7 linked regions of the Homo sapiens genome follow. The gene in region 5 interacts genetically with the main gene of each other region. Each region holds a gene or a part of one and is shown on either strand. Other genes may lie near its edges. The genes, in order: DUT, GEMIN2, GET3, GPN3, POLR3B, NUBP1 and CTNNBL1.

The links.
Region 1: changes in POLR3B (region 5) and DUT together harm fitness more than expected from each alone (negative genetic interaction), as found in Homo sapiens cells (one large-scale study listed by BioGRID).
Region 2: changes in POLR3B (region 5) and GEMIN2 together harm fitness less than expected from each alone (positive genetic interaction), as found in Homo sapiens cells (one large-scale study listed by BioGRID).
Region 3: changes in POLR3B (region 5) and GET3 together harm fitness more than expected from each alone (negative genetic interaction), as found in Homo sapiens cells (one large-scale study listed by BioGRID).
Region 4: changes in POLR3B (region 5) and GPN3 together harm fitness more than expected from each alone (negative genetic interaction), as found in Homo sapiens cells (one large-scale study listed by BioGRID).
Region 6: changes in POLR3B (region 5) and NUBP1 together harm fitness less than expected from each alone (positive genetic interaction), as found in Homo sapiens cells (one large-scale study listed by BioGRID).
Region 7: changes in POLR3B (region 5) and CTNNBL1 together harm fitness more than expected from each alone (negative genetic interaction), as found in Homo sapiens cells (one large-scale study listed by BioGRID).

The regions. Positions count from the first base shown.
Region 1 is NC_000015.10:48,334,429-48,337,928, reverse strand, and holds part of DUT (deoxyuridine 5'-triphosphate nucleotidohydrolase, mitochondrial isoform 1 precursor), read right to left. Parts: coding exon 3,421-3,500; intron 1,884-3,420; coding exon 1,839-1,883; intron 1-1,838. UniProt on the Homo sapiens protein: Catalyzes the cleavage of 2'-deoxyuridine 5'-triphosphate (dUTP) into 2'-deoxyuridine 5'-monophosphate (dUMP) and inorganic pyrophosphate and through its action efficiently prevents uracil misincorporation into DNA and at the same time provides dUMP, the substrate for de novo thymidylate biosynthesis.
Region 2 is NC_000014.9:39,131,323-39,134,397, reverse strand, and holds part of GEMIN2 (gem-associated protein 2), read right to left. Parts: intron 2,441-3,075; coding exon 2,330-2,440; intron 738-2,329; coding exon 679-737; intron 1-678. UniProt on the Homo sapiens protein: The SMN complex catalyzes the assembly of small nuclear ribonucleoproteins (snRNPs), the building blocks of the spliceosome, and thereby plays an important role in the splicing of cellular pre-mRNAs.
Region 3 is NC_000019.10:12,743,997-12,747,496, reverse strand, and holds part of GET3 (ATPase GET3), read right to left. Parts: intron 2,121-3,500; coding exon 1,972-2,120; intron 1,889-1,971; coding exon 1,738-1,888; intron 301-1,737; coding exon 193-300; intron 103-192; coding exon 1-102.
Region 4 is NC_000012.12:110,461,758-110,465,257, forward strand, and holds part of GPN3 (GPN-loop GTPase 3), read right to left. Parts: intron 3,458-3,500; coding exon 3,349-3,457; intron 1-3,348. UniProt on the Homo sapiens protein: Small GTPase required for proper localization of RNA polymerase II (RNAPII). May act at an RNAP assembly step prior to nuclear import.
Region 5 is NC_000012.12:106,434,248-106,437,747, forward strand, and holds part of POLR3B (DNA-directed RNA polymerase III subunit RPC2), read left to right. Parts: intron 1-2,809; coding exon 2,810-2,884; intron 2,885-3,433; coding exon 3,434-3,500. UniProt on the Homo sapiens protein: Catalytic core component of RNA polymerase III (Pol III), a DNA-dependent RNA polymerase which synthesizes small non-coding RNAs using the four ribonucleoside triphosphates as substrates.
Region 6 is NC_000016.10:10,757,342-10,760,841, reverse strand, and holds part of NUBP1 (cytosolic Fe-S cluster assembly factor NUBP1), read right to left. Parts: exon of another isoform or gene 2,970-3,500; coding exon 2,815-2,969; exon of another isoform or gene 2,565-2,814; intron 1-2,564. UniProt on the Homo sapiens protein: Component of the cytosolic iron-sulfur (Fe/S) protein assembly (CIA) machinery. Required for maturation of extramitochondrial Fe-S proteins.
Region 7 is NC_000020.11:37,868,530-37,872,029, forward strand, and holds part of CTNNBL1 (beta-catenin-like protein 1), read left to right. Parts: intron 1-3,395; coding exon 3,396-3,484; 3' UTR 3,485-3,500. UniProt on the Homo sapiens protein: Component of the PRP19-CDC5L complex that forms an integral part of the spliceosome and is required for activating pre-mRNA splicing.

The sequences.
Region 1 (3,500 bases), on a different chromosome or scaffold from region 5:
AAACTATCCACACCTACCAGATGTGAATTCTGAACAGAATCCTGAATGCTCAACTTTTCCCTTTGACCCTTATTTAGAGCCTGGGATTTCTAACAACATCTCTCTTCAGAAATAAAAACTGTTGCCAACTATGATAAACTTGTGCCTAAGGGAGATTGTTAAGATTCTCTGCATCCAAGAACACACCACAATGTGATTTTATGAATAACACCATACCAACCACTAGGCAAACTAACTTTCCATTCTTTTACATGAATTTTTTTCCAGAAAGTTGTTTTAAACAGAGCAAAAATTAGTAACAAAGTCGAATAAAAGAAAAAGTTTCCACATAAAAACAATCTGTGAAGTCCCTAAGGACAGAAATTATATCTCACAGAATCTAATATGTGCCAAGTACTATATTAGGTATTTCATACACATTATCATTTAATCCTCCTACCTCTAGAGGCAGGCACACTAATTTCCATTGTAAAATGAGGAAACAGGCTCAGAAAGGTTAAGTAATAACTAGTTAATGACAGAGCTGGGACCTACATCCAGTTGTTATTCCAAAGCTCCCGTTCCTTGAACAATCATTTGAAACTTCATTGAAAATATATACAATTATTTATATCCTTAAGTTACTGTCCCAAAATGACCACAGTTGACCTTGTAAAAGCATTTTTGAACATCGGGCATAACTTACAGAGCCCAAGGAATCCTCAACCCAAGAGTGGGCTGTCAATGTCCACCCTGCTATGTAAAACTCAGCTCCCCTTTAGTCCCTAAAGGGTGTACTTTTGGGGTCCTGTCTTGTCCCACAGCACCACCTGGTGACACTATGGAGAGACACCACACCCACCAAATGTTAGACTAAGGGGCAGGTCTAGGATAGCCAGGTTTCATTAAGTGCTTAGTTAGCCCTTGCAGTGGCACATAAAAGTGAGCTAATTCTGGACGTGTTTAGTTGGTGAGGGGGATGCAGCAGGGTAATCTCCACAATTAATTGCAGTGGAAAGAACAAGGAGGCTGGAATCACACAGAGACTCCAGTTTTTACCACATATCCATGTGGGCTCATTTCTAAGCCAGTTTTCCTGATCTGTTAACAAGCCTCCATAAAGCAGCTCTGTAAAAACGGGTGGAGGAGGAGATCTAGCACACCTACTTATGTGGGGGCCAAGGTATCTTGTTAAGTGAAAGATTCACTACTGATGGGATAAAGGGTCAGTATGTAAGGACCACATAAGTGGGGTCTGAATCCCAGTTGGAGCGGACCTGAAACAAGGAAACCACATCAGGAAAGTAGAAATTTCCTTACAATAAGAGGAGTAGCTCTGTATCAAGAGTAGTTAGCAGAGGACACTGAGGGTTCTTCATGAAAGGTACCACATGAGGTAGGGTTAACTTTGAGACAAACATGAGAAAGGCTTTATTATAAGGGAAACAGGTAACACAGAGGACTGTCTTAACAAATTTAGAGAAAAGTGTTTTCTCTCCTGACTTCAGGGAAAGATTTTCTTCTTAAATTTTGCTAAAGACAGATAGCTCTCTTATGAAGAAAATTCTTACAAGATAGACCTGTGTTTTCTAGAACTTTTGTTGCTTAAATAATTACTTAATTATTATATCATTAAATCTGTCATTATTAATTAGGTAATCATTATTTTAAAAATTAAGTTAGTAGTTAAACAAAATATAATTACTTAAAATAACCACAAAGCTTTTCCTCCTATTATAACAAGCTTTCCTCTAATCATTTTCTTTTCTTAAAAATAAAATCTGTCATTTGAATATTACCTTTTAAAGACAAAGTAAATACTTGCAAACATTTACAGAATAAAAAAGGAAATATATTACCTCCTACATCAATAAAGTGTTTTGCAGCCAAGCCTGACCGTGGAGCTAAAAAACAAAAAAGGAGACATTGGTTATTTTAAGGGGGAAGGGCTATATCAGAGATAACTGATGCAATTTAAGCATGTCATTCTCTTCACCTATAATATCTATATCTTCATCTTAACTTTAGCACATGGTTTTGAATTAAAGAATATATATTCATCATACTGCATTACCAAAGTTGGAAAGACTAGTTTAGAAAAATTCCACAAGGTTTTAATTCAAAACTAACTTAAACCACTCCCATGTGACTTCAGTCAGAATTTGTGGTGCTGCAGACAGGGGAGAAGGACTGCTAGAATGAGCTGAAAGGTGAGCAAGCGGGAACAACTGTAGGCTGCTCTTTCAAGAAGTTAAGCCTCAAAGGGGAAGAAAGAGAAGTATGGCCAGCAGGAACACACTACTGAGGAAGAAGACTTTGGTTTTAAGATGGGACACCACAACATGTACAATGCAGATGGGAAGGGAAAGGAAGAGGAAGGGAGAGGGAAACAAACCTAACCAAATAGTAGCAGACCATAGCCTACAACTTGGGACCCCACTATTCATGATTCAGATGCCAAAAGACATGCCTGTAGGAAACACATGAACCAGAGTAAGATAAATGGGCTAATATCAGTTAAGTAAAAATGCCAAAAACTAAGTCTCAATGATTCAATGCTAGTATACTTTTTAATCCTAAAAAATGAAAAAAATAAAAAGCTAAGGTTACACCTTATTATTGCAGACTCAAGCATCAGGCCTATAATTAATTATCCTAACTTCCAGCATTTTATTTTAGAATAATTTAAATCAGGCACTTTGTCAATAATGCTGCCTCTTTCTGTACTAACCTTTATTTCACTCCATCTCCTGCCCCTTCCCCTGAAAAAATTCTAAAAAATGGAGTCAATGATGCTCAAGAGATGAGATGAGAGCCCATCTTGTTATCTTTTAAGGGCTGAAGTACTGGCAGTTTCCTCACTCATGGCTAATAATATAGTGCCAGTCTAGCTCCTTTCCCTGGAGGAGGGCGTCACAGCTCCATTGCCTCCTTTATGTTTACTCTGAAGTTAGTCAAAAAGAACTTACGCTCTTGCAAAGAACTGTCTGGTAACAACTGATCCGCTCCAGAAAAATCAAACCTGTTGACGTGTACTCCATTTTGTCCTAGCTCCTCCCAGTGCCTCTACAACACTGAAGAGTATCCCTTACCCTAACCCCATGGCCAAACAAGAAAAGGTTAAGTAGGCTTACACATTCTGGGACCAACAGGTCAGAAGTTTTACTCTCATAATATAAAATGCCATGTTCTGAGAACAGCCTTCTAGGCCAGTGTGAGCCTAAAAGCTCCAGTGAGGAAGGAGAAAAATAAAAGGGTCAAAAAGAGGCAAAGCAGAGATGTAAATAAAGCCTTTCAAAGAGTGCATTTGCTATCACAAATGGTGCTTCTTTTAGGACACAGCCCAAGCAATATTGCCTGCTTATTACCCCAAATGAAACATGAAGAATCTATCACAAAGGAGAACTTGACAAATAGTTACCTGTTTCTTAAATGACTTACCCACTCTTCCATAACACCCAGAAGGGAGCGCTATCTGAATGTCCGTTTTCACAACAGCTTTCTCCATAGGTGGTATTGTG
Region 2 (3,075 bases), on a different chromosome or scaffold from region 5:
AAATTACAAAAATTAGCCGGGCATGATGGCAGGTGCCTGTAAGCCCAGCTACTTGGGAGGCTGAGGGGGGAGAATTGCTTGAACCCAGGAGGTGAAGGTTGTAGTGAGCCGAGATGGTGCCATTGCACTCCAGCCTGGGCAACAGAGCGAGACTCTGTCTCAAAACAAAACAACAAAAAAAGTTTTCAAATAAATTCCAAGAAGAATTTCTATGTAAGAAATGAAATAAAACAGATACTAAATAAAAATATGCCACAACTGAAAATGAACGCAGGACACAGGCAATTAAACAAAAATGCAGGCTGAATGCAGTGGCTTTACACCTGTAATCCCTGCACTTTCGGAGGCTTAGGTGGGAGGATCGCTTGAGCCCAGGAGTTTTGAGACCAGCCTGGGCAACATAGTGAGACCCTGTCTCTACGAACAATTTTTTTTAATTAGCCAGGTGTGGTGGTGCTTGGTTGTGGTCCTAGCTACTCAGGAGGCTGAGGTGGGAGGATTGCTGGAGCCCAGGAAGTTAAAGCTCTAGTGAGCTGTGATTGCGCCACTGCACCCTAACTATAGCAACAGAGTGAGACTCAAAAAAAAACCAACCAAACAAAAACCAAATGTAATAAATACGATCTAACCTCACTGACCTCACTGATAAATAATAAAGAAGCCAAGGATTAACTATACCTGCTAACCAAGCAGATTAATAAATTCAAAGCAGGAACCCTCTCATCATCTTTGCTATCCTAAAAAAAAAAAAAGAAAAATTTAAATATTGTCTGTTCCTATTACTTTTGAAATAAATTTTCTATTAAGATGTAAAACACGAAACATGAAAACTTTATTATATGACAGTAATCATCATGTGGAAATAGGAGCCCTCAAAGAAAAAGCAGAGAACTGTAGAGTTAATGATTCCTTGAGAAACATCTAAGACTATCTTTTAAATAAAGATTCTGAATAGGGAAAAAAAAATAAAGAGGGATCTAAGGGGGATAACTTGGGGGAAATTTTTCCCTGGTTCCTACTAAAGGAACAATAAGAATCCTGTGTCTTAACTGTACAGTGATGAATATATATATATATATTCATATATATTATATATGTGTCTTAACTGTAGTGAATATGTATTCATATATAATAAATATATATTAATATACATATATGAATAAATATATTTATCACTGTAGTCAAGACACAGGATTCTTATTGTTCCTCTATATAATGCATACAATATATGTGAGGATATATATAGAATATATATGAATATATATAATATATATTAATCACTGTACAGTCAAGACACAGGATTCTTACTGTTCTTATATATATTCATTACTGAATTATATAAAGATATATATATAAAGATATATATATATACACACACACACACACACATATATATACACACACACACACACACACACACACCAGGTGCAGTAGCTCATGCCTGTAATCCCAGCACTTTGGGAGGCTGAGGCAGGTGGATCACTTGAAGTCAGCAGTTTGAGACCAGTCTGGCCAACATGGTGAAACCCTGTCTCTACTAAAAATACAAAAATTAGCCAGGCATGGTGGCGGGCACCTGTAATCTCAGCTACTCTGGAGGCTAAGGCAGGAGAATTGCTTGAACCTGGGAAGCGGAGGTTGCAGTGAGCCGAGACCGCACCATTGCACTCCAGCCTCGGTGACAGAGCGAGACTCCATCTCACAATAAAAGAAAAAAAAAAAAAAAAAAAAAAGGCTGAAGCTACAGCAGCCATCTTGGATCATAAGATGAGCATGAGGATGAAAGCCACATATGACAAAACTCAAAGGTGTGGGTGGGTTACTGCCATCTTAGTAAAAATCTAATTTTTTTACCTACTTCTTTTTTGAGACAGAGTCTTGCTCTGTTGCCCAGGCAGGAGTGCAGTGGTGCAATCTCAGCTCACTGCAACCTCCGCCTCCTGGGTTCGAACGATTCTCCTGCCTCAGCCTCCTGAGTAGCTGGGATGACAAGCACCCACCACCACACCCAGCTAAATTTTGTATTTTTAGTAGAGACGGGGTTTCACCATGTGGGCCAGGTTGGTCTCAAACTCCTGACCTCAGGTGAGCCACCCGCCTCAGCCTCCCAAAGTGCTGGGATTATAGGTGTGAGCCACCACGCCCGGCTCAGACTTCTTTATCTCAGAAAACATTTCCATATTATTTAAGCTACTATTATTTTGGGCTTTACAAATCTAATTGCCACCAATAAAATATTCCATGTGTTTTCCTATTTCACTGAACTCCTTCTTTACCACCATATAAATTGGTGGGTGCTTTTAATTTTAAACAGTAAGTTGCAACTTACCACTAAGAGCCTCACTTCAGAGCACCTTCTTGCAAGCTGCCGAATCAGTGAATGAGCCTCAGGTAACAAAGGCTTTTCAAGACAAGCCAATAAAGCATAAAGCCATCTTCCCTAAAAAAAAATTCAAAAAATTAATATTTAGACAAATACTGAACCAGAAGTTTATTTTTTAAATGTCCAATGTTATGCCTGATTATCTGCTATGAATAAATTCATAGAACATTTAACTATATTATGTTTGGGTATAGACAAGAAAGCCTCATTTGGAGAGCCAGGTGTTATCTCTTGTATCCTATAATTACAGACACAGGACATTGGATACCTCAAAATATTCCCTGATCTCCAAAGAGTTTGTTTCAGATATTCTTATGATAGGAAGTTCTCATTTGTAAGCAGAACACTACATTAAGATGAATATAAATACTGGAAAAAATTAAGATACATTTTTTTCTTTGTTCTGTATGGACAGATATAGAAATCATTTTATAATTGTATAATTTTGTCCTCTGGGGACATACAAAGAAACTATACTACAGATGAAATAATCTTTTGACACTTTTATAAATACTTTGACAGGCTCAATGTATCCCCACTCCCTTTTAAAATGGGGTTTTCAGCTACAAAATGAATACATATTTGATGCAGAAAAACTGTGAAGAATACCACAAGCACAAGAAAAAACCTGCAGTCCCAACATTCCAGATCAAACTTTGATTCACTTTAAAAATGTTCTTGTTTTTCCTATT
Region 3 (3,500 bases), on a different chromosome or scaffold from region 5:
GTGTGTGTCAATCTTGCACTTGGCCAGCTCCTGGATCAGCCTCTCTGTCTCATACAGGGACAGGAACTCAGCAATGCATACGCAGATGAAAGTTGTCTGCTCCTACAGGGCACGAGAGAGGACAGTGAGGGGCGGGGTCTGCCCCTGTCCTCAGCCCCCGGGCCTCTCACCGCCAGCCAGACCACCACTCACAGGGTCCTTGAACTGTTCGCTGACTGAGCGGATGACGGGCAGCGTCTCCTCCAGCTTGGAGGCCAGCTGGTCTGCGTTCATGTCCCCCAGGCCCAGCATGTTGCACATCTGCAGGGGGGATGTGGGAGGGCTCATAGCTTACCTGCGGCGACCTCCTGGGTTGGGGGTTCACTAAACACCCGAGGGATGACTCCTGATACCTCCCAGTGGTTAAAGGCTCAGGCCCATAAGCAGATTCCTGGGGTTGGTCAAATACTAGCTTTTCCATTTCTTTCTTTCTTTTTTTTTTTTTTTTGAAATGGAGTCTCACTCTGTTGCCCAGGCTGGAGTACAATGGCGTGATTTTGGCTCACTGCAACCGCCGCCTCCTGGGTTCAAGCGATTCTCCTGCCTCAGCCTCTTGAGTAGCTGGGATTACAGGCGCGCACCACCATGCCCGGCTAATTTTTGTATTTTTAGTACTGGTGGGGTTTCACCATTTTGGCCAGGCTGGTCTTGAACTCCTGACCTCAGGCAATCCACCTGCCTCGGCCTTGCGAAGTCCTAGGATTACAGGCATGAGCCACTGCGGCCGGCCTCAGCTTTGCCATTTTTAGGGAACCATAGCTAAGGGGCTTGACCCTCCTGGAGCCTCAGTTTCCCCATCTCTAAACTTTACCTCCCAGATCTGTTGTACCAGATGAGCTGAAGCATATAATGTGCTGAGAATAGTGTCTGGCACACAGTAAGTGCTCAGTGTTACCACCTGAGGCACAGGTCCCCACAGGGGACACGCACACACCCACACGTGCACATACACCATGGTGGGTGGTGCTGGTGGTGTGCAGCACTGTGGGGGCTTTAGGGTTGTCATCGTAATAATAACCCATGGGGGCTGGGCACAGTGGCTCATGCCTGTAATCCCAGCACTCTGGGAGGTCGAAGTGGGTGTACTGCTTGAGGCCAGGAGTTCAAGACCAGCCTGGGCAACATGGCAAAACCCTATCTCTACAAAAAGTACAAAAATTAGCTGGGCATGGTGGTACATGTCTGTAGTCCCAGCTACTTGGGAGGTAGAGGCACGAGAATCACTTGAACCCACGAGGTGGAGGTTGCAATGAGCCAAGATCGCACCACTGCACTCCAGCCTGGGTGACAGAGCGAGACTCCGTCTCGAATAATAATAATAATAACCCATGGGGCACTCTCATGATCTCCATTTGCAAGACAAGGAAGGTGAGGCCCAGAGAGGTGAAGTGATTTGCTTGAGGTCACACAGCAGTTGGGTCACATGGTGAGTGTAGAGGGTTTGAAGGCAGGTTGCCTGGTTCTGGAATGTGCTTTCTGGCTCTGTCTAGGGTATTTAGCGGGCAGGGGCAGGGACACTGAGTCCTGCCTGTGGGGGAGGAAAGACAGCTCCGTCCCATCCCCTCCAGGGAGAAGTCCAGAGTGAGAAGGGGTGGGAAGGAAAGGGAATTGTTAGTGCGCATTTGAGGGTCTGGGGGCCCGGGCCTACTCCCACTCCCGGCTGCCTGGATGGTGCAGGTGGGGGCCCCCGCCGCCTGCCTGTGAGATGAAAGGGCTGATCTGGTTCTTGATCTGCATAAGCCGGCCCAGGCCCCGCTCCACGATGGTGGGGAAGTTGAGCAGCCTCAGGGTGTGGCCCGTGGGTGCCGTGTCAAATACCACCACCGAGAAGTTCATGCCCTTCACCAGCCTGAGGGGAGACAGGGGTCAGGCCCTCTGTGTCCGCTCTTCCCCTTCCCCAGGCAGCCCCCACCCCTGCTGGCTGGGCCTGACCTCATGACCTCGGCATAGCTCATGGCCTCATCGATGCCGGGAAATGCGCTCATGGCCTCCTGCATCATCTTCTTGCCCATGCTCAGCATGTTGTCCTCCTCGAAGAACTCGTCAGGCAGCTCCGCCACGCCCAGGCTGGGGTCAATCTCCTGGGGGCCAAAGGGATGAGACTGAGGTTGCTGCTACTGCTGGGGGAGCCTTCCCACCTGGGCACAGGGCCAGGGGGAGCCTTCCTACCCGGGCACAGGGCCAGAGGGAGCCTGTGGTGGGCTGTGACCACAGGCATTTCATTAGGTCACGGCTGGGGGGACCCTGAGGTAGTACTTAGGGTTTTGTATGGTTGCATAAAGGGTCAAAAACAAGGGGAAAATTGCAAGCTGTGCCCAGGGCCCTCAAAGGGAAGCTGAAACCCACTGCGGGCCATTTACACTGCTACTCCCCACTTGCAACCTGCCACTTGCAACCCCAGATACTCCCATGACTGGGCCATGACCTCTTCCGGATCATCATCCCTCCACTGAGAGACTCCCTGACCACCCTAAGTAACAGCACAGATCCACCGACACCCCTGCCCTGCCTTCCTTTCTCCTTAAGGTTTAGCCCTTAGGAGCTGGGCAGGATAGCTCACGCCTGTAGTCCCAGGTACTCAGGAGAATGAGATGGGAGGATCGCTTGAGCCCAGGAGTTGGACACCAGCCTGGGCAATATAGCAAGACCTATCTGAAAAAAAAATTAGCCCTTCCTCACATCCCTCATGATTCCCTTATCATGTTTATCATCTGTCTCCATAGCAGGAATGTCTGCCCCTCAGGGGCAGGGGTTTTACCATCTAGTTCACTGCTGTGTCCTTAGCGCTTAGCATGAACAGTGCCTGGCACAGAGGTCGTCAGCACATATGGGGAATCCAGCCAGGCGCGGTACCTCATGCCTGTAATTCCAGCCCTTTGGGAAGCGGAGGCGGGCAGATCACCTGAGGTCGGGAGCTTGAGGCCAGCCTGGCCAACATGGTGAAACCCCGTCTCTACTAAAAATACAAAAATTAGCCATGCATAGTGGCGGGTGCCTATAATCCCAGCTACTCTGGAGGTTGAGGCAGGGGAATCGCTTGAACCCGGGAGGCAGAGGTTACAGTGAGCCGAGATCACGCCATTACACTCCAGCCTGGGTGACAGAGGGAGACTCTGTCTCAAAAAACAAACAACAAAACAAAACACAAACATGTATGTAGAATCTATGAAGGGATGGCCATGGCTGGGGTCCCTGGCCAGTCTCAGACTCAATGCCTCCCTCTTTTTTTTTTTTTTTTCCCGAGATGGAGTTTTGATCTTGTTGCCTAGGCTGGAGTGCAGTGGCGCGATCTCAGCTCATCACAACCTCCACCTTCTGGGTTCAAGCAATTCTCCTGCCTCAGCCTCCCGAGTAGCTGAGACTATAGGCATGCCCCACCATGCCTGGCTAATTTTTTTTTTTTTTTTTTTTTTTGAGATGGAGTCTTGGCCGGGCGTGGTGGCTCACGCCTGTAATCCCAG
Region 4 (3,500 bases), 4.0 Mb from region 5:
CAGTCACATTTATACTGACAACACCTTCCTACCCCCTCCCTCAGCAATCAATAACAGATAACTGATCCAAATTGGGACAATCAATCTGGCTTTCTTTCTTTTTAGACAGGGTCTCACTCTGCTGCCCAGGCTGGAGTGCAGTGGCATAATCATGGCTCACTGCAACCTTGACCTCGTAGGCTCAAGTGATCCTCCCACCTCAGCCTCCTGAGTGGCTGGGAATAAAGGCACCCGCCAGCATGCCAGGCTAATCTTTGTATTGACTTGTAGAGATGGGGTTTCACCATGCTTCCCAGGCTGGTCTTGAACTCCTGGGTTCAGGCCATCCATCTGCTTTGGCCTCCCAAAGTACTGGGATTACAGGTGTCAGTCATAGCGCCCATCCTAAGTCCTCTTTTTAACTAAGCTAGCTTAGAGTGGTTTCTGTTTGCTGCAGCCAAATGGTTCCAAAGTAATACAATGCCTTTTTTCTCAAAGAAAAGCATTTCACATCTCCTCCTCTCCCTTCAATCTGCCTCCCCGCAACCTGCTCACTCATTAACAGAAATCAGAAGTTTCCCTTTGCACTTAGTGAGTGCAAAGAGAACGTCCCCAAACCTAAAACGACCTGTCTCCCTCCACAGGAAATTATATCATACACTGAACAAAGCTGTAAGACCTCACCCTTGATTCCTTACTTTGCTATGCCTTCTTGGTTCAATCCCCCACAAAATGCTGTTAATTCAACTTGCAAAATATATTGAATCTGTCTGCTTCCTTACATCTCCACCGTGACCACCCTAGTCCTGGTGTACACCTGGCTAACTACAACAGCGGCAGTGCAGGTTGTACTTCTTTTTTTAATTTTAAAATGGAGTTTTGCTCTTGTTGCCCAGGCTGGAGTGCAATGGTACGATCTCGGCTCACCAGAACCTCTGCCTCCCGGGTTCAAGCGATTCCCCTGTCTCAGCCTCCAGAGTAGCTGGGATTACAGGCATGTGTCACCACACCCAGCTAATTTTGTATTTTTTTTTTTTTGAGACGGAGTCTCGCTCTGTTGCCCAGGCTGGAGTTCAGTGGCGCGATCTCGGCTCACCGCAAGCTCCGCCTCCCGGGTGCACGCCATTCTCCTGCCTCAGCCTCCCCAGTAGCTGGGACCACAGGCGCCCGCCACCATGCCCGGCTAGTTTTTTGTATTTTTAGTAGAGACGGGGTTTCACTGTGTTAGCCAAGATGGTCTTGATCTCCTGACCTTGTGATCCGCCTGCCTCGGCCTCCCAAAGTGCTGGGATTACAGGCGTGAGCCACCATGCCCAGCCATGCAGGTTGTACTTCTACTCTCAACCCACTAGAGTCCATTTTTCATCTGAGCACCTGAGTTATTTTTTAAAACATAAATCAGGCCAAGTGCGGTGGCTCATGCCTATTATCCCAGCACTTTCGGAAGTCAAGCTGGGTGAGTCACTTGAGCCCAGGAGTTTGAGACCAGCCTGGAAATCGAGACCAGCCTGGGCAATGAGACCAGCCTGGGCAACATGGAGAAACCCCGCCTCTACAAAAAATACAAAAATTACCCAGGCATGATAGTGTGTGCCTGTAGTCCCAGCTACTTGGGAGGTAGGAGGATTGCTTGAGTCCAGGAGGTTGAGACTGCAATGAGCTGTGATCAGGCTACTATACTATATAGCCTGGGTGACAGAGTGAGACCTTGTCTCAAAAACAAAACGACAACAACAACAAAAACAAAAAAAGGCCGGATGCAGTGGCTCACGCCTCTAATCCCAACACTTTGGGAGACTGAGGCCAGCAGATTGCTTGAGCTCAGGAGTTTGAGACCAGCCTGGGCAGCATGGTGAAACCCTGTCTCTACAAAAAAAAAAAAAAAAAAAAAAAAAAAAAAAAAAGTATAAAAATTAGCCAGGCATGGTGGCACGCATCTGTAGTCCCAGCTACTTGGGAGGCTGAGATGGGAGGATGGCTTGAGCTCAGGAGGCAGAGGTTGTGTCACTGCACTCCAGCCTGGGCGACAGAGCTGGACCCTGTCTCAAAAAAAAAAAAAAACCCCAAAACGTGTATCAAATGTCAATCCTTTCCTCTTCTTAAAACCCTCTAGTGGCACCCCACTGACAACAGGATAAAATCCCATCTTATCATGTCCTGTTAGCCCCTACCCACTTCTTTCTTTCAGACATTACGCTTTAGCTCACTGACATCTTAGCTTTCCTGGAGAATACCAAATCCTTTCTCACCTCCAGGCTATTTATTTATTTATTTTATTTTTCAGAGATGGATCTTGCAATGTTGCCCAGGCTGGACTTGAACTCCTGGGCTCAAGTGATCCTCCCACATCAGCCTCCCAAGTAGCTGGGACTACAGGCACATGTCCCTGCACCCAGCTTGGCATATTTATTGATCTAAATGTTCCCTCATTTTGGAAGGACTTTCCTCAGCCTGAGGAGCATATTACCATCCTTCAGGTCTAGGCTCAAAGATCCCCTCCTCAGAGTCACCATTCTCCCTGACAATTCTAGCTAAAGCAACCTCAATGAGTACTTCTCATGAGCCTGTCTGCAGTCATCACATTCTGTAACATGTTCATCATGTTGTTTATTGCCTATTTCCTAAAGGGTTGGTGTGGGCAGGGATAATGTCTGTATTATTCTCTGCTATAACTCCGGTGTCTGGCGTAAAACAGGTGTTCAACAGACACTTGAATGAACAAATTGAAAGAATTAAAAAAAACAAACCCAGGCTCCTGACTTATAGTGATCAGCAATATACCACATGATTCACTACAGCAGGACTAAGGACAAAAGGGACAGAATGAAAGGGTGCTGAGGGAAGTGTCCATTTACTTTTTTTTTTTTTTTTTTTGAGATGGAGTCTCGCTCTGTTGCCCAGGCTGGAGTGCAGTGGCGCAATCTCGGCTCACTGCAACCTCTGTCTCCTGGGTTCAAGCGATTCTCCTTTCTCAGCCTCCTGAGTAGCTGGGATTACAGTCACATGCCACCACACCCAGCTGATTTTTTTGTGTTTTTAGTAGAGACAGGGTTTCACCATGTTGGTCAGGCTGGTCTCAAATTCCTGACCTCGTGATCCACCCGCCTCGGCCTCCCAAAGTGCTGGAATTACAGGCATGAGCCTCCGCGCCCGGCCCCATTTACTTTTAAATCTTACATCAAAGACCAAGAAAGGATACTGTCACACATATCACCATGAACAGATGTGACCAAATGACAAGCTCATGCTATTTACCATAACACCAGGGATCCAGACTATAATAAGTATCAGTGCTAAGCAGCTAGTACTCACTGCCTCCCCAGCCCTTACTGTTCCTGAAGGTGGGGGGAGCCTTTGCTCAGGACTTACCAGCCATCACGGAGTAGTTGAAGTGTTCTGCTGCTGGATCCAGGTTTACAACTTGGACAGACCGGTTGAGGGCTTCACAGTGCTGGACCATGGTGGCACAGTAGGTGCTCTGTAATGTCACAAGGCATGAGAGGTTAAAGCAACAGGTAGTG
Region 5 (3,500 bases):
ACTGAGGTTCAGTGAGGCTAAGTAACTTACTGAAAGCTAAAGAGTGGTGGAATCTGTTTTTTATTTGAAAGTCCTTAGGATTCGTTTGACGCATGATTTTGCCCACTATAGTCTGTTGCTACAAACTGAGCTTTAAAGGAGGAGTAGGATTGTGTTAACTTGGAGGTAGGTGGGGAGGAGAAAGGCTGAAAAAAGGCAAGAATGAAAACATGGAGGCATGAAGAAATAAAATAACACTAGATCCAATGGAAAAGTAGGTTCCTTTTATTCATTCAGTAAGTATTTATTAAGGGCCTATTGTGCACAGGTACTATCTAGGAGCCGGAGGTACAGAGACGAATGTGACATGGTGTCTGGTTTGAGGGGCTATGCAGAGACATCAGCTGAGGACATTGCCTTGTGTCACAAGCCTTTTCTAGCATTACCGTAGTTATTCTGTGTATACCTCGGGTAGTGTTGAAGCACAAGGCAGTGAGCCAGCAGTAGCTGGAAGTCTGTCAGAGCTGGGAGAGTGACTGCATGCTTTCTTTCCTCCAGCATCCTTTCCTCCTTCATATGACACTACCTCATTTTCTTTTGAGGACTGCCTGTCCCCATTGGCAGGCTTCTTGGGATGGTCAGTCCAGCACCCTCTTCTCTTCAGCCAGGGGTTGGGCATATGACCCAAATGAGGTCAGTCAGACCCCCTCATCAGAGAATTTGAATCCCAGGTAAAATAAATCAAGGGAGGGAGGTGGTTGGACTTGATTCATTCTCCCAGTGCTACATGCAAGAGACTGCCTGTTAAACCTCATTTTCTGGATTCTTGGAACTGCTCTCGTTCCTTTTCTTTCTGAGGCTGAGCATTTCACCTTTTTCTTTGATTCTTATCCTTCCATTAAATTATTTTTTTTTTTTTGAGACAGAGTCTCACTTTGTCACCCAGGCTGCAGTGCAGTGGTACGATCTTGAGTCACTGCAGCCTCCGCCTCCCAGGTTCAAGCGATTCTCATGTCTCAGCTCCCCACCCCCGTCCCTGACCCAGTAGCTGGGATTACAGGCACACACCACTGCCCCTGGCTAATTTTTTGTATTATTAGTAGTGATGGGGTTTCACTGTGTTGGCCAGGCTGGTCTCGAACTCCTGGCCTCAAGTGATCCACCCACCTCAGCCTCCCAAAGTGCTGGGATTACAGGTGTGAGCCATCGCACCCAGCACCTGTAAATTCTTAATGCTTCCAGTAAACTTCATTTTTGCTTAAATTAGCCAGAATTGGTTTCTCTTCTTTGCAACCGAAGAATGGTTAGCTGATGATATACCTGTGTTTGAATCCTAACTTCCCACTTACTGAGTTGTGTGACTCTGAGTATACTACTTCAGTCTCTCAGCCTTGGTTTCCTTGGCTGTAAAATGGAAACAATAATGCCTGCCTAAGATTGTCCTGAGAACTAGTTGATAGAAGGTGTGGTAAGTGCTCAGTAGGGTGCCAGGCACACATTAGGTGCTTATTTATAACTTAATAGCATGGTCCAGTTAAGGGCAGGAATAACAGTGACATTTTCTAGGTTACTCTTTTTTAGGATTTCATTACATCCAACATAATATATATTCAAAAATAAAACTCTTTTATAGAAGCAACTTTATAATGGCATAACAGATCTAGCAGGAAAAAATAGTAGAATGCGTTGAGTAACGTAAGGATAACTGAGGCAGCTAAATGTGATCCCCTCCCTCTCCTCCGCCGGTTTCTGTCTTCTCATCTGAGGCTTAACCTGAATCCACTGCAGCGCTCAAATGAGGCATTAGTAGGCTCTGCTTCCCTACCAAGAAGGAGCCAGAATTTCGAGGTACTGTGGATTTCCATGAAAAGCTCACCCAGTTCATTTTTCAACAACTTGTGTTCCCCTTTTGTAATTGTGCAGCTCCTCTTCTTAACTGTTGAAAAGTGCTCATTAGTCCTCAAATAGTTATTTGGACTTTAGGGTAGAGCGCACAAGTGTCTGGTGGTTACTTGCTCCTCTCTGTAAGAGCTGCTTATCCAAATAGCAACAGCCCTTGACGTTTCAGTGCCGCATGCCATCCTTTGTGTCCGGGTTTCCTCATGGTGGCAAAGCCCTCCGAGGCAAGTCCCCACTGACAGTTACAGGTTAATCTGCCAGAATGCCTTCTCCACCTTCCACCCATTACGTCACTGAAAACCACAAAGTAAGAAAGCTTCATTCTCTGCCAACTTTTAGCCACTCTCTTTGGTAATGTGTAGCTTTAAGTATCTTGCTAACCTAGCTCAGTGATGTTTAGACTAAATCAAACTACTCTAAACATCTGGATATTCATCAGAACCTCACAACACAACGCCGTTATTACCCTAGGTGACAGTGCTTCTTTGCCTGTTAACTCCATGAGTAGTATGCAAAATTTTCCAATGTGAAATCGGGAAGTTTTTAGATTGATACATTACACCGTTTTTTAAAATATGGCATTAAAGGTTTTGTTTCCTTTTCAGACTTTGAGTATCATTTTTGTGTTGCCTTTTCATTCAAAACCAAATGTTTCCTAAGATACTTGCAGGAAGCACTGTGTGTGTGCATGAATATGTCCACACATACTCACATGTACACATGGGCTTGGGTATGTATGTGTGTGTATGTGAGAGAGAGCATAGTCCCCTACACCATGCTCATCCATACAAAAATTACCTGGTGTCCTCAGCAATCCAGGAATAGGTTTGTTTGTATTTACATCTTCCCTCATCTCACTTTGGTAAACTAACTTGCCTGTGTAATTTTTCCCTGGAACTATTATTAATTTGGTTTGCTGTTTCCATTCTAGACCCTACATAATTGTCAAGAAACAGAAGCCAGCAGTCACAAATAAACATATGGAAGAGCTGGCCCAAGGGTACAGGTAAGTAGCCAAAAGTAAAACTTACCAATCTCCTTAATACCCACATACATGATTTAAGAAAAGTGTATTTTCATTTTAGTGTTTTAATTTCTTTCCACCAAATTACCAGCCTGTTAAAAACCTATTTTGCTCCATGTGAACTTGCTTGGACATTGTAAAATATTCATCAATTTAGATCATGAGGGTTACCTAGTCTTGATGTCAGTTAGTACACAAGTAAGTGTTTCTGGTAAGAAAAGGACTTACATCATGTGTCAGTGTAGACACTGTGGGTCTCATTATGAGGTTTCTAAGGTCAGAATTTTTTTTTTAAGAAGTGGGGACTAGGTTCACAAGAGTTACAGACAGACACTTTGCTGTTTTTATTTCAGCAGTTTGTGGTTACTGTGTGAGCTAAGAATAACATGTTTCAGGTATCCCAATGTAATGATATTCTCTGGGAGAGAAAGGTGCTTTGGGCCTAAACGAAAGCCAGTATCTCCTGTTATTATATAAAATACTGCAGAAAAATGCTTTTTAATGATGTCTCTTTCACCAATATTTTCCCAGGAATTTTGAAGATTTCTTACATGAGAGTCTGGTTGAATATTTAGATGTGAATGAAGAAAATGATTGT
Region 6 (3,500 bases), on a different chromosome or scaffold from region 5:
TATTTAGTACCTACTAGTGCTAAGCCCTGTTTGTTCGAGGTGCTATTTACTTCCCACACAGCCAAATAGCAAGAAATCAACCTAAAAGAAAATGACTTTTTTTTTTAGAGACAGGATCTCACTGCTGCCCAGTCTGGAGTGCAGTGGCATAATCATTGCTCACTGCAGCCTTGACCTCCTGGGCTCAGGCAATCCTCCTGCCTCAGCCTCCAGAGTAGCTGGGACTACAGGCATGTGCTACTCTGCCTGGCTAACTTTTTAATTTTTTATAGAGATGGTTGTTGCCCAGACTGGTCTTAAGCTTCTGGTGTGAAGTGATCCTCCTGCCTCGGCCTCCCAGAGTGTTAGGGTTAGAGGCGTGAGCCACTGTGCCTATCTGAAAATGACCTTTTAACGCATCTACATGCTCCATGTCCCTATACTATACTATATTAAGCCAGTGTGTGCACTGTTTTCTAGACCAGAGCTTGGCAAACCCCAGCCTGGGGGCTGAATCTGGCTGGTTTTATAAATAAAGTTCCTCCGGAACCAGCCATGCCCGTCCCTCTAGGCACCGTCTGTGGCTGCTTCATGCCACAGTGGCACGGCTAAGGGGCTGGGACAGGGACCGTGGGGTCCGCAACGCCTACTTCCTATCTGGCCCTTTACAGAAAAGTTTGCCAATCCCTGCTCTAGATAATTATAAACACAAACAACTGACTAAAAGGAAATAAGGAATACTGCCCAATGTGGACAACTTTGCATTTCCTTCTCAACTCTGAGTTTTTCCAATGTGATTACTGTGTATAAACACCGCTCAGTAGCTCCCTATTTTCCTCAGTTAATGTTATCACAGATCCCTGTACCCAAGTCCTGCTGTGGCTTGTCACTGTCAGGTGTAGTGACTCCTTAGCACCTGGAGCTTCACCACTCACGTGAGCCCGAAAGGCTCGCAGCTTTGGGCCTGTTCTTTTCCTGAGATGCCTGTTTGGCTCTTGACACTGAGGCTGGGATGCGGAGGAAGGGGCGCTCAGCTAGAAAGTCAATGGGCTGCGACTCAGTCTCTCATTTCTTTCTTTCTTTTTTTGAGACAGAGTCTTGCTCTGTCGCCCAGGCTGGAGTGCAGTGGCGCGATCTCGGCTCACTGCAACCTCTGTCTCCTGGATTCAAGCACTTCTCCCACCTCAGCCTCCCAAGTAGCTGGGATTACAGGTGCCCACCACCACGCCTGGCTAATTTTTGTATTTTTTTGGTAGAGACAGGGTTTTGCCATATTGGCCAGTCTGGTCTCGAACTCCTGACCTCAAGTAATCTGCCTGCCTCGGCCTCCCAAAGTGCTGGGATTACAGACATGAGCCAGTGTGCCCAGCACCAACCACTTTTTAAAAATGGGACAGAAAACATTCCTAAGGACAAATACACTTTCTCTCCACTGCCATCACCCGGGCCAGGCCATCCTCCCTCCTGTCCAGGGTCCCAGCTGGTGTCCTGCTCCTCCTTGCGTCCCCATGTCCCCTCTCTGCAGGATGCCAGGGTGGACATGAATCTTGCACCATTTTCTGACCCGGACACCCTTCCCATGGCCGCTGGGCCTGCCACTCCATTGGCTGTACCCTCATCCCTGTGTCCAGCACCTGTGTTCCTCAGGGAGCCACAGGGGCCACCAGGGAGAGCCAGGCCTTTTTACTGCCCTGGTGCCCGGCATGTCAGAGTCAGAGCTCAGTGAGTGCTGGATGAGGTGAGACTATGGGTCGTCCTGACTGATTCTGGCCAGTGAGATCAAATCAAACCTCCTTTGCTGGGCTTTCTTAAGTGTGGAGGAGAACGTCATGAAGAGAAGTCAGGCGTAACTGTGGAGATGGAGAAGAGCCCTCAGTTTCTCAGGCCCCTGAGATGGATAGCACCATGGTCCTGCCTGCAGTTGCTCTCTGCAGGACTTACAGAGAGGAAACTTCCTATCGCTCTCCTCTCAGCTCGGGCTCACCATGGGCCTTGGAGTACAGCCACTAGGTGACTGCTACAGAGGGTTGCTGGGTGTCACTACGGAAGAAGCGAAGGCACCCAGTGGCTTATCCCGAAATCCCTATCTGCACCCAGCTGGTTCTGTTGAAAACTGGAGAGATTTCCTAAATCATCCTGGGATGTAAACGGAAAATCCACTGTAGGCTGGGGGACCTGACACATGGACACGGCAAGGCTGACGGGGCCAGGCAGCACAGTATGAATTATAACTGCACTGGTGGTTTCCCTAGTTTCCTCAAGGAAAGTTCAAAAAGCATTCTTGACCCACTATTGTTTAATCCATGGACTAAAAAAAAACCAAATCGTTGAATGGTTGTCAGCTGCAAATGTCTAGACCAAAGATGAAGTTTTTCTTATTTTTATCTTTTGGGACAAGGCCTCACTCGCTTGCGCTGGCTGGACTGCACTGGCGTGATCATGGCTCACTGCAACCTCCTTTCCCCAGGCTCAAATGATCCTCCTACCTCAGCCTCCCAAGTAGCTGGAACTACAGGCGCGAGCCACCATGCCTGGCTAATTTTAAAATATTTTTTGTAGAGATGGGGTTTTGCTATGTTTTTCAGGCTGGTCCCGAACTCGTGGGCTCAAGTGATCCTCCCATCTCAGCCTCCCAAAGTCCTGGGATTACAGGTGTGAATCACTGTGCTGGCTGAAGTTTTTAACACGAGGTTTCTGCAGACCCACATCAGATGCAGCTGCGGAACACACACTGGGAAGAGCCTTGGTGAGACCAGAGTATCAGAGCCAGGTAGGAAAGAAATCTCACAGTGTGGAGCACAGTTTGGACCCAGCTCCAGCTGGCAGCTCGCTCACCTGGGGAGTGGTGATGATCACTGCTCCATCGATGTGTGCTGTGGCCAGGTACCGGACGACCGAGAGGTGTTCATCCGACGTCCCAGGTGGGGTGTCCACAATGAGGTAGTCGACCTCTCCCCAGTCCACATCTCGGAGGAACTGCTTGATCATGCCTAGAAAGAGGAATCCACAGGGGATGCTTACTTTTCCTTTCTTTTCTGTACTTTCAACTCCCTCTTTTTTTTTTAAAGGATGGGGTCTTGCTATGTTGCCCAGGTTGGCTCTTAACTCTGAGGCTCAAGCAATCCTCCCACCTCAGCCTCCCAAGTAACTAGGACTATAAGTGCGTGCCACTGTGCCCAGCTCACGGAGAAGCATGATCTGATCTTTTTGTGCCTTTGGTCTATGCTGTAAGTCAGTGGCTCTCAACTGGGAGTGAATTGCAATGTCTGGAGACATTTTGGGTTGTCACAAATAGAGTAGGGGGTGCTACTGGCATCTTGTGGGTAAAGGCCAGGGACACTGTTTAACACCCTATGGTGTAGAACACGGTCTACTCCTCCCCCCAACAAAGACTTATCTGGCTCAAAATATCAATAGTGCTGAGGCTAAAGCTTGCCCTGATAACACTTTCACATTATTACCTTAAGTCTCAGTACCAGATCAACCTCCTGTTGATCTCACCTCTCTGACCCAAATAAGCC
Region 7 (3,500 bases), on a different chromosome or scaffold from region 5:
CCCTCTTCCAGGGGACACTAAGCCATTCACTGCCTGTGGGCCAGTCGGATATCCCCTTTCCAGAGAATGGGTGATGTGACTGTTTGCTTCTTAGCACAGTTGGAGTGACACAGGAGACTTGCGCATAGGATGGGTGCTCTGTGTACCGTCGGCATATGTAAGCGAGGCCTCGGCACAGGTGATTCGGCAAAGGGATTGATGCAGGTGTGGGTTCCCTCTGCTTCGTACATCCCTAGAAAGAACTCAGGGAAGCCGGCTTTACTGTTGGAAAATCACTGCCCCACAGCATCGGACTGTTTCTCCACTTCCCTCTCTCCTGGGTCTGAGAAGACATTAGGAGAGCAAAGTGTTAGCTCAATCCATTAAGACTCCTGCTTCCAGACCATGCCTCCGGGGATATTAGATGCCATAATGGTCATTTCTCTCTCTCCTGGGGCAGCAACTATATCATTCACATGTGAGTAAGAGATACCACTTACACACAGCCCCAGAGCCTTCTGCCAAAGCTCAGTTCCTGTCTCCATCACCCTGGCCCTCTCTCTAAGGGGCCTTAATAGGAGGCATCACAACCACTTGCTGTTGGAGGTGATGGATGGGCCTAACAGAAGAGGATTTCTGGGGGTAGACACACAGCTGGCACATGCCTGAATCCCACATCCCATTTTCTGGCACACGACCAAAGTAATAAAGAGGAACGGGGCAAAATAAAGAGGTAGCAGGAGCAAAATTACTTCCCCAGCATTGGCAGGGGTGGGGCTGACAGGGGAGGGGTGAGAGGTCACATGCTTTGTCTCCCCAGTCTTTGTCTGGTTTGGATCAGCAGGTGTTTTATTATGCAAAAGCCTCTTACTAGAGAGTTCTCTCCATTTTCTTTCTCAAGCCAGGCCCCAGTAAGGGACCAGGGGGCAGAAGTGCAGGCAGCCATCCTAGTCACCCACTGCAGGAGATCCTTCAGCACGACACTCTGCTGGGGGGCCCTCGGCCAGGCTTAGCTGGGAGGAAGGCGAAAGCCCCTGCCTTCATGCAGCTCTCTGTCTAGGGAGAGAGGGGCTGGGTGGAGGATGGTCTAGCAGTCAGGCCCACATGTGCTGGAGGCAGTGGCCTGGGGCCGGGTGTGGGAGTGAGAGGTGACCAGGCAGGCTTTCACAGAGAAGACATCTCAGGAGGGGACCCGGAGGAGGTGTGGGACTTCCCCAGTGCCATTACTGGCCTGAGCAAAGGAGGCTGAGGGAGGGAACTAATGTTCCCTGGACGTTTGTTATTTGAACATTTTCAGAGGGGACCACCCAAGGGCACAGTTGTGAGTCAGAGCTAGGATTTGATTGCCTTTTCCTCTCTGGCTGTGGGCAGGGGACAGTCAGAGGGCAGTGAAGGGTTGGACCACCCCATCCTCCCCCTTCCCCTCCCACCAGATCCCCTACACTTGCTCTAGGAGCCACCGCAGGAAGTCCAGAGTCACCAAATCATCCCTCGCCATCTCCTAAAAAAAAAAAAAAACAGGGTGACCATGTTATTTTGGGGGACGAGGACACTAAAAAAAAAGAAATGGCGTCTTAAGGATCACTGTGCTGGGACAACAGGGGAGACAAGAACACAAGCCTGCCCACCATGACACTCTCTGATGGCATCCTCTGCTGATCTGTTGCCAGAACTGTGCCCAGAGCCTCACCCTCCTCAGGAATATTTCCTTTCTCTTCCTGGTCTCACTGAAACCTGGTGCTCCTACACCCCTCCTGCCACTGGAGACATAGGAGGGGTCTTCCATGCTCCAGTACTTCTAGACTATTCTCTCTCCCTCCCTTCCCCGAATACACCCAGCTGTCGAAGTTTGTGTCGGGGGACTGCACCCCCCGACAGCCCCTCCCTGTTGTTGGCACCAGCACCTGTGCCCCCAGTCCTTGCGGGGATTCTGGGCTCACTGTCAGCCTCCCCAATGCTCTTGTCATATTTCTTGGTGATTGCAACATCCATATCTCTTTCTCACACCCCATTTCCGGTCTATCTGTAAATCCTATTGGAGCCACCCTCAGAAAACATCAAGAAGCTGAAGACGTCGCCTCACCTCCACCGCTACCTGCCCAATCCAGGCCACTGTCACGTCGCATCTCCTTTCCCTGCCTTTGCTTCCCCCATGGTGTCCCCCACACAGCATTGAGAGGGATCTGGCAAAAGTCAAATCACGTCATTCCTTTCTGCTCAGGACCCACCGCACAGAAAGGCCACAGCCCTTACCGTGGTGCACAGACCCACACCATCTGGGTATGGCCCCTCCCGTGGCTCCAGGCTGTGGCCACGCTGACCTCTTCGCTGACCCTCAGATAAACCAAAGAAGTGCCTCCCCTTAGATCCTCTGCCCTGGCTGCCCTGCCACTCGCTCCTAGACCTTTCCACACTCATCTCCTTCTGATCTTTAAGCAGATACTCCCTGCTGACAGCCACCTGTGTATTTTGTTCACTTTTTGGTTTGTGACCCTCACTAGAAAGTAGGCTCCACACAAGCAGAAATTTGCATCTGTTTCTATCACTGCTTTATTCCCATTCCCAAAAAAAGGTTCTCAAACTGGAGCATACATCAGCATCACCTGGAGACTCAATAAATCCCAGATCACTGGGCCCCACCCGTTTCCTGTTAAGTGGGTCTAGGGTGGTCCCAAGAATTTGTGTTTCTAGTAAGTTTCCATGCAGTGCTGCTGCTGCTGCTGCTGCTCGGGTCCACACTCAGAACCACTCACCCAGAGCAGTGCCTGCCCAGCTGGTGTCTGTCTTAGTCTGTTCGTGCTGCTGTAACAAAATCCCTGAGACTGGGTAATTTATGAAGAACAGAAATGTACTTCCTCACAATTCTGGAGGCGGGGGGTCCAAGAGCACTGCCCCAACCTTTGGTGTCTGCTGAGGGCCGTCCTATTGCATCCTCACATTGCAGAAGGGGGAAGGGCAAAGGGTCTTGAGAGTTCCCTGCAGTCCTTTTGCAAGGGTCTAATCCCCCTAGATTAGACCTAATCTAGACCTAATCTAATCTTATAATTAGATGGTAAGAACCTAATCACCCCATAAAGGCCTTCGATGCGTTGAGGATGAGGTTTCAGCATGAGTTTTGGAGGGGACACAAACATTCAGACCTTAGTAGCATCCACGCCATGTGTGTTGAGTGAATAAATACATGAGGGCGGAAGTGAAGGGTGTGGCTAGGAGGGGAATCCAAGCATGGAAAGGTAAGTTGGGACCTTTCCACTGAGGCCTCAAAGGCAAGACCCCAAGGAATTTGGCTACAGTGGGGGCATTAGGGCGACTTGCACCTCTGTGGGAGCTGGGGTTCTGGGAAAGGTATGAAGCGACGCAGCCACGGTGGATGCCATGCCTGGGATCCACTCCTGACTCTATCTTTGTCCCCCTAGAGTATGCAGAGAACATCGGGGACGGCCGGAGCCCGGAGTTCCGGGAGAACGAGCAAAAGCGCATCCTGGGCTTGCTGGAGAACTTCTAGAGGCACCTTGGCCCTG